2 linked regions of the Homo sapiens genome follow. The protein of the gene in region 1 purifies or fractionates together with the protein of each later gene. This does not show direct contact. Each region holds a gene or a part of one and is shown in the gene's direction. Other genes may lie near its edges. The genes, in order: ZNF311 and NAXD.

The links.
Region 2: the proteins of ZNF311 (region 1) and NAXD purify together in Homo sapiens (affinity purification with mass spectrometry; one large-scale study listed by BioGRID and IntAct). This does not show direct contact.

The regions. Positions count from the first base shown.
Region 1 is NC_000006.12:29,002,494-29,006,818, reverse strand, and holds the start of ZNF311 (zinc finger protein 311), read left to right. Parts: upstream 1-1,503; 5' UTR 1,504-1,811; exon of another isoform or gene 1,812-2,279; intron 2,280-2,384; exon of another isoform or gene 2,385-2,604; 5' UTR 2,605-2,864; coding exon 2,865-2,873; coding exon of another isoform or gene 2,874-2,948; exon of another isoform or gene 2,949-2,958; intron 2,959-3,224; coding exon 3,225-3,306; intron 3,307-4,325. UniProt on the Homo sapiens protein: May be involved in transcriptional regulation.
Region 2 is NC_000013.11:110,632,412-110,636,223, forward strand, and holds part of NAXD (ATP-dependent (S)-NAD(P)H-hydrate dehydratase), read left to right. Parts: intron 1-2,133; coding exon 2,134-2,184; intron 2,185-2,260; coding exon 2,261-2,365; intron 2,366-3,056; coding exon 3,057-3,177; intron 3,178-3,812. UniProt on the Homo sapiens protein: Catalyzes the dehydration of the S-form of NAD(P)HX at the expense of ATP, which is converted to ADP.

The DNA.
Region 1 (4,325 bases):
GTACAAACTACATTTCAGGATAACCAAATAGCCCTAAATTGCTAAATTGATGAAGGAAAGTTTTTCTTTATAGAGGAGTTCTAACTAATAAATGTGAAAAAATTATTGAATTAGAAAAATTACAATTTTACAAACTCTAATGAAATGGGGTGGCTGAATCTATCAGATTAAAAGCCAGTGGGAAAGTTTACATGGAAGGATTCAGCTATCAAGTATTAAACCCACTGGTCAATCTTAGCATCAAAAACATTATATGCTTCCTGATGTGTGGCAAAAAGTACATAGCACCACCTAAGGATTCTTACTAACAAAGTTAAACCTAACTCTAATCAAACCTTTAGAGGTAACATCAAGTTTTACAGGAAATATGAGGCTAGAGAAACTAATAAAATGGGGACACAAATAGACAAAGCCAGCATGTAGAACATTCAGGACAAATGTCCCAATTTGTTCAATTAGTTGACTATATGAGGGGAAGACGAAGAGGAGGATGGAAGGAGGAACTAGTTCAGATGTGAATTTTAAAAGAATTAAGACACATGCCCAAATTAAATACTGGAACTTTAGATCTTGAATGAAATAGAAAACAAATGTAAGAAGCATATGTATATATTTAGGGAAATATAATATGGACTTGGTATTAGATGATAACCAGGAATTATTTTGTTAAATGGGATAATGGTATTGTGATTCTGTAGGAAAATATCCTTTTTAAAATAAATGCATAATGAAGTTGAAAGTAAGATATTTGGGGTTTGCTTTAAAACGTTTCAGCAAGAAAAAATGGAGATGGATGAAACAAGTGTGGCAGAATTTTATGTATTTTTAAATGTAAATGATGGGTATATATGGGTTAATTATACTCTTCTTTCGACTTCTGCATAGGCTTAAAATAGTCTTTACTTTTGAAAAAGACATTCAATTATTTGTGTTCTTAGTTAATATTTAAAAGTAACTTTTTCATATATTTGTCACAAAACTTCTGTCCATTCCTATCTAGAGGTTCCTCTACATGGGAAAAAAGGAGCAAAAGGGTAATATTTCTGCAACCCCTTTGCACAGGCCATAAACGCACGCAAACTCCTAGAAGGCTGAGCCGCGAGGAGGAGGGCGGAGAGTTTAAGGGAACGCCTAGACCAGAGAGTTGACGCCTTTCCTAGAAAATCACCGGAAATGATAATTGGCGGACTAGGAAGTGGAGCTTCTGTATATTTCTGTTTCTCATTTCTTGGGGAGAGTACCGGCGGGAAGGTCTGTGCCTTGGGCCGTCGTGGGTCGGAATTTGCAGCTGAGAGGAGAGGAGTCCGGTGCCGCCGTCGCCCCCCTCACCTAAATACCCGGGCCCCTGGGGTTGCAGGCAGGGGCGGGTCTTTGGGGCCAGATTTGAGGAGGGAGTCGGCTGCGGTTTCCTCCCTCGAAGCCATTCCCCAAAATGAGCATTTCCCGCCCATTTGCCCTACCTCCTCCCAGGGGCTCGTGACCCATTTTTTTTTTTTTTTTTTGAGACCGGAGTCTTGCTCTTGTCGCCTCCTGACCCATTCTTTTTATTCTTCTCTACAGCATCCATTCATATATTCATTCAGTCAGCTAATTTTTAATCCAGCACATACTATTGCAAGCGCTGTTTTAGGCGTTGAGAATACAACTGTGAACAAGACGACAAAAATTCCTGCCCTCATGGAGCCTAAGAGCCTAGATTTTAGCGAAGGTAGAACCACCGTAAACAATGTATATATTAATAAGTAACTTATGCACCATACTGGAAAATTATAAAGTGCTATAGAGGAAAAGAAGAATTCATGTAAAGCAAGGTAAGGCCCATCAGGATTGGAAGGAGGGGATAGGCTGCAATTTTAAATAAGGCACTCAGAGTAGACCTCCTTGGGAAGATGACCTATAAGAAAACACTTGAAGGAGGCAAGATTATTAGCCATGGAGATCGCTTAAGGTGAAGGGAGCAGCCAATGGAAAGGCCCTAAGATGAAAGAGAAGGAAGGTCGGTATGGCTGAAGATTGAGGGAGTGGGAGAAGAGTAGAAGGTGTTGAGAATGACACATCCTGTAGACTTGTATGCCACTCTTAAGACTTCAGCTCTTATTTTGGGTGAGCAGGAGAGGAAGTTAGAAGTCACGGGCACATTCAGTAGGGCCTTGTATACCTCGGTAAGGACTTCAGGTTTTATTTTAAGTATGAACCACTGGAGAGTTTTCAGCAGAGCGATGAAATGATCCAACTCAAGTTGTAAACGGACTACTCAGACTGCCCTATTAAGAAAGGAGGTGGAGCTTGCAGTGAGCCGAGATTGCGCCACTGCACTCCCGCCTGGGCCACAGAGCGAGACTCCGTCTCAAAAAAAAAAAAAAAAAAAAAAAAAAAGAAAGGAGGAAGGCAAGGATTGAAGAAAGGAGACCAGTTAGAAGACTACCGCAGTAATGGAAAGGAGGGGAGATAGCAGGTGATGGTGGCTCAGACAAGGGTGGTAGCCGTTGAGATTGTATTCTGGATATGTTCACATTTTCAGTTTGACTTCGTGCCTCAGGTTCTCAGTGACTCCCTATTTTTTCCTGTGGTCACATTCCTCTTTTCCCTTCACCAAATATGCAGGGAAACAAGATGTGAGATCACAGCGGTTTAGTGTTGCTAATGAACCCCAAATCCAGGGCAGTGTTTGACACATTAAGCCAAACAGTAGCGGCACTGTGGGTCAAGAAGGGCCCTTTGGCTGGCACCACCAAAACATGTGTTCTCCAAAGGAGGCTGGCATCAACTGGAGCCACTTCACAGCTTGTTTGAGAACTGGATCTGACCAGTAGGAAGAAACCAGGACAGCAGTGGAAGACTGTTAAAGAAACCTGAGTAAAAAGATGCAGGAGGTAAGAAGAGGAGGGTCTGTGATACATCACAAGGAGGAAGAAGGAGAAGTGAGTCCAAGAAAGAAGGAAAGCAGTGTGAGTGGAGGTGTGTCTGACTCTAGATACTGTTGGAGGTGTCTCCTCCTAGATACTGTTTTTGCTGCTTGACCTGGTGATCATTAAAGCTTTGTAGTTGTAGATGCCATTTCTAGTTTTCATAAGGTATTAGGAACTGAGTCCATTATTTTCTCCCTTCTTTTGGTATTTCTGGGAGACAGTTTCTGTGGATAGACCTGTATGGTTGCTTGCATCTTCCTATGTATTTTTCTCACCTTCATAACTTTCCTGAATTCATTCTGTGTCTTGCAATAGGTTGTGCTGTTGGATGAGAGTTCAGGACCACCAAGCCAGCTGCTTTGGACCCGCCAGGATACCCAGCTCCCTCAGGAAAGCGGTGAGATACACAGGAGATTGTGGCAGGAGTCACGGCAGCTGAGAATGTAGTAAGGACACAGAGTGGGTGGAAAATGCCACACTGGGGCCCAAAAATCTGTTCATTAATGAGCATTTATAGAAAGTCTTATTTTGTTTCTATACGAGGCTTGGATCAATATCTAGAGGAACTAAATATTCAGTTTCTGTCAGTATCTTAAATTTTGAAAAAAATCAGTGTGTAAAAGATTCTACAAAGCAATTTATCAGAAAGAATCAATGCAGTCAGGCATTTACTGTTTGTATAACCTGAGATATATGGTAAATAGCGTACATATTTGCACATATTTTACACTTATAAAACTTGTGGTATAATTCAGTAATTCCTACCCAAACATAATTTTGCCAACATGTAAAATTTGAATATATACAATTTTACTTCTGCAGACCTTTCTGGAGCCCTGATACTTTTAAATGATGTATAGATATCTCCAAAATATAAAATAAAGCAGTGACAAAAGAAGAAGCAAAAGTTTTCCCATTGAAGCCTTGTGCTCTTTGGTGGCGTATGTGAGGAGGAAAAGTGGTTAAGATTTGTATAAAAGCTGATGGTAGGCCGGGTGCGGTGACTTATGCCTGTAATCCTAGCACTTTGGGAGGCCTAAGTGGGTGGATCACTAGAGGTCAGGAGTTCATGACCAGCCTGGCCAATATGGTGAAACCCCATCTCTACTAAAAATACAAAAATTAGCCAGGTGTGGTGTAATGCACCTGTAACCCCAGTTACTCAGGAGGCTGAGGCAGAAGAATTGCTTGAACCCAGGAGGTGGAGGTTGCAGTGAGCTGAGATCATGCCACTGCACTCCAGCCTGGGCAACAGAGTGAGACTCTGTCTAAAAAAAAAAAAAAAAAAATTGCTGTTGGAGGTGCAACCTAGGAGATAGTATATAGCAATTCAGGAGTCATAAAATCAAACCCAGAAAGGCATAGACTTTTGGACAGAGGAGTAGGCACATTCAAAAGTAAGCTTTTTAGTATATG
Region 2 (3,812 bases), on another chromosome or scaffold:
CGGGTTACCAATGCTGGCTCGGGCAGCCTGCTTTTATTCTCTTATCCGGCCCCGCCCACATCCTGCTGATTGGTAGAGCCGAGTGGCCTGTTTTGTCAGGGCACTGATTGGTGTGTTTACAATCCCTGAGCTAGACACAAAGGTTCTCCACGTCCCCATCAGATTAGTTAGATACAGAGTTTCGACACACAGGTTCTCCAAGGCCCCACCAGAGCATCTAGATACAGAGTGTCGATAGGTGCACTCACAAACCCTGAGTTAGACACAGAGTGCTGATTGGTGTATTTACAAACCTTGAGCTAGATACAGAGTGCCGATTGGTGTATTTACAATCCCTGACCTAGACATAAAGGTTCTCCAAGGCCCCACCAGAGCAGCTAGATACAGAGTGTCGATTGGTGCATTCACAAACCCTGAGCTAAACACAGGGTGCTGATTGGTGCACTCACAAACCCTGAGCTAGACACAGGGTGCTGATTGGTGTGTTTACAATCCCTGAGCTAGATATAAAGACTCTCCACATCCCCACCAGACTCAGGAGCCCAGCTGGCTTCACCCAGTGGATCCCGCACCAGGGCTGCAGGTGGAGCTGCCTGCCAGTCCTGCGCCGTGCGTTCGCATTCCTCAGCCCTTGGGTGGTCGATGGGACTGGGTGCCGTGGAGCAGGGGGTGGTGCTCGTCGGGGAGGCTCGGGCCGCACAGGAGCCCATGGAGGGGGTGGGAGGCTCAGGCATGGCGGGCTGCAGGTCCCGAGCCCTGCCCGGCGGGAAGGCAGCTAAGGCCCGGTGAGAAATTGAGCACAGTGCCGGTGGGCTGGCACTGCTGCAGGACCCAGTACACCCTCTGCAGCCGCTGGCCCGGGTGCTAAGTCCCTCATTGCCCCGGGCCAGCAGGGCTGGCCGGCTGCTCCGAGTGCGGGGCCCGCCAAGCCCACGCCCACCCGGAACTCCAGCTGGCCCGCAAGCGCTGCAGGCAGCCCCAGTTCCCGCTCGCGCCTCTCCCTCCACACCTCCCTGCAAGCTGAGGGAGTGGGCTCCAGCCTTGGCCAGCCCAGAAAGGGGCTCCCACAGTGCAGTGGTGGGCTGAAGGGCTCCTCAAATGCCGCCAAAGTGGGAGCCCAGGCAGAGGAGGTGCTGAGAGCAAGCGAGGGCTCTGAGGACTGCCAGCATGCTGTCACCTCTCATTTTGTTTAATGTTTTCTATTTTAATGTTTTGTATTATCAGGTGTCTGTCAAGTCAGGATCACTTTACATGCTACTGCAGTGTATAATCTTGTCACAATGTATTGGCTCATAATAATAAAAACCACCAAATATTACATATATGTGTGTGTATCTATACATGTAGTTTTTTTTTTTTAATAGAAAACCTTTGAAACCTTCACTGTAATCCTATCAGGGAAAAATGATTCCCTGTTTATTATTGTTGTTATTTTAAAACGTGTAAGTAAAGTGATATGAAAAATACATAATGACTAATGATTTGGGGAATTCTCAGGAATTCAGATTTCCTGCCTCCGAATGCTGCGTATTAGTATCTGTTGGAGAACTGGATGCCCTTGCTGGGGCGGGGGCTGTCTTCATGGGTTAGCCTAGGAGCCCAGCTGTTGTTCATAGCGTTTCCAGTGGGCTTCGCCTTTCAGAGTTCCCAGTGTCCTGCCTTGTTTACGGGCTCTGCGAGTTCATTGGGTCTTTCTGCTTCTCTATTTTATTCATTTACTTGATTATTTTCCATTTATTGTTTGATGGCCTGATGTTGCATTTTATTAAGAGTCTGCTCAATTTTCTGTCACTCTTGGGAAAAGTGTCTTAGTCGGTTTTGCGCTGCTGTAGCCGTACCACAGACTGGGTAATTGATAATGAACAGGCGTTTACTGGCTCACAGTTCTGAAGGTGGATGTCCAACATCAAGGTGCCGGCATCTGGCGAGGGCAGAAGGGCAGGAGAGAGACCCTTATGCCTCTTTTAAAGGTCATTAAACCAACCCATGAGGACACTGCCACATCACCTTTTAAAGGCCCCACCTCCCAGGACCCTTCCCTTGGCAATTAAGTTTCACCATGAGTTTTGAGAAGACACATACCCACACCATAGCAGCAGGCATGGTGCTCAGTCTGGTTTTCTCTTCTGGCAGGGCATTTTGGAAGTGTCAAAGGCCAGGGACATCCCTGTTGTCATCGACGCGGTGAGTTGACTTCTCTCCTCCTGGCTCGGACTCCCGGAAGGCCTGTGCAGTGAGCACGGCTCCTTGTTCTGTGCAGGATGGCCTGTGGCTGGTCGCTCAGCAGCCGGCCCTCATCCATGGCTACCGGAAGGCTGTGCTCACTCCCAACCACGTGGAGTTCAGCAGACTGTATGACGCTGTGGTGAGTCAGTGGACCCCCTGGAGGGTAGATGCAAGCCCTGTTCGTCCTGAAGAGGGTGAAGGACGAGCTCCATGCTTCTGCCCAGCCTGTCCCTGTGGACACACCTGCAAGTAATCGCTGTGCCTCTCCCAGCGGATGGCGCGTCTTCCCATTAATGCGCTTGGATTGGATGAACGATGGTGTAGTGGGCTTGGGACAGGCAGGGACTCGGGTCAGTCAGCCCCTCCTGCAGTGCACTCTGGACAGGTCACTTTGTCTGTGTCCTGAGTGCCTCATCTGTAATGTGATGATGGCATCAGCTTCACGGGGTTGTGAGGATGAGATGAGGAAACCTATGTAAAGCCGTGAGTCCCCACATGGTAAGTGTCCCATCAATGTTAGTGCCCAGTACGACTGGAATTTGTATTACTCCTGCAAAGCTCTCAGAACCCAGTCTTGGGTGGTCCTCCTTCAGCCTGCTCTGATGAGGTAGAGGATGGGCACTGGAGCAGGCACCGTGTCAGCACCTGCTCGGAGGACTCACTGCAGGTGATATCCTGGGCATCCTCCCACCTACATGGCCTTTAACAGGTGCCTGGGTGATCCCTTTAGACACGAGAGCATGAGTCTCATGGCGGATGGGACAGGGCTATCTGTCGTCGTGTGTCTGAGGAAGACTTTGCTTTTTCTCTGTCTTCCTGTGTTGTCATAGCTCAGAGGCCCTATGGACAGCGATGACAGCCATGGATCTGTGCTAAGACTCAGCCAAGCCCTGGGCAACGTGACGGTGGTCCAGAAAGGAGAGCGCGACATCCTCTCCAACGGCCAGCAGGGTGAGTGGCGGCTGCCCTCTGTGCATGGGCCAGTGCCAGGTCAGTCAGCATGGCCACACCGAGCATGAGCCCTGGAAGACCTCTCCCGTGCACACCCGTGTTCACACACATTCACACAGGGATTCCTGATGAGCTCGTCAACCACACTTTCTTCAGAGTCCATGTTTTGACTTTTCACTGTTTTGCCAGGGGAGGTGACAGTGGTGAGGGCAGGCTTTCGAGCCGTGGGCCTTACCCGTTGGTTGAATTCCCTTGCCTCAGTTATGAGAAGCAGTCTGGCGGGAGGGTGCCTGCAACAGCAGGGCACAGTGCAGGGTCCCGCGTCTCCAGCTGCCACCTTCATCTCACCTGTGGCATCCACCATCCATGCAGTTATTTGGGTATTTTATTGCATTTCATTCTCTTTTATCAAAATGACTGGAAAGTGCAGAAAGCCCCGAAGCTGATGCTGGTAGTGGAATCTCAGGCACTGAGTGTGGCGAGTCTCAACTGGCCACTCCCACGGAGCCTGGGGAGGCTTCAGCAAGAGCCAAGTGAGAGCAGGGCAGAGGCCGGGCCCAGCGCCAGCGAGGCATCTGGGGAGCCGTGCCCTTGTTAGCGCTGAAAATGGAAGCCCCTCCATTCAGGCCTGGACA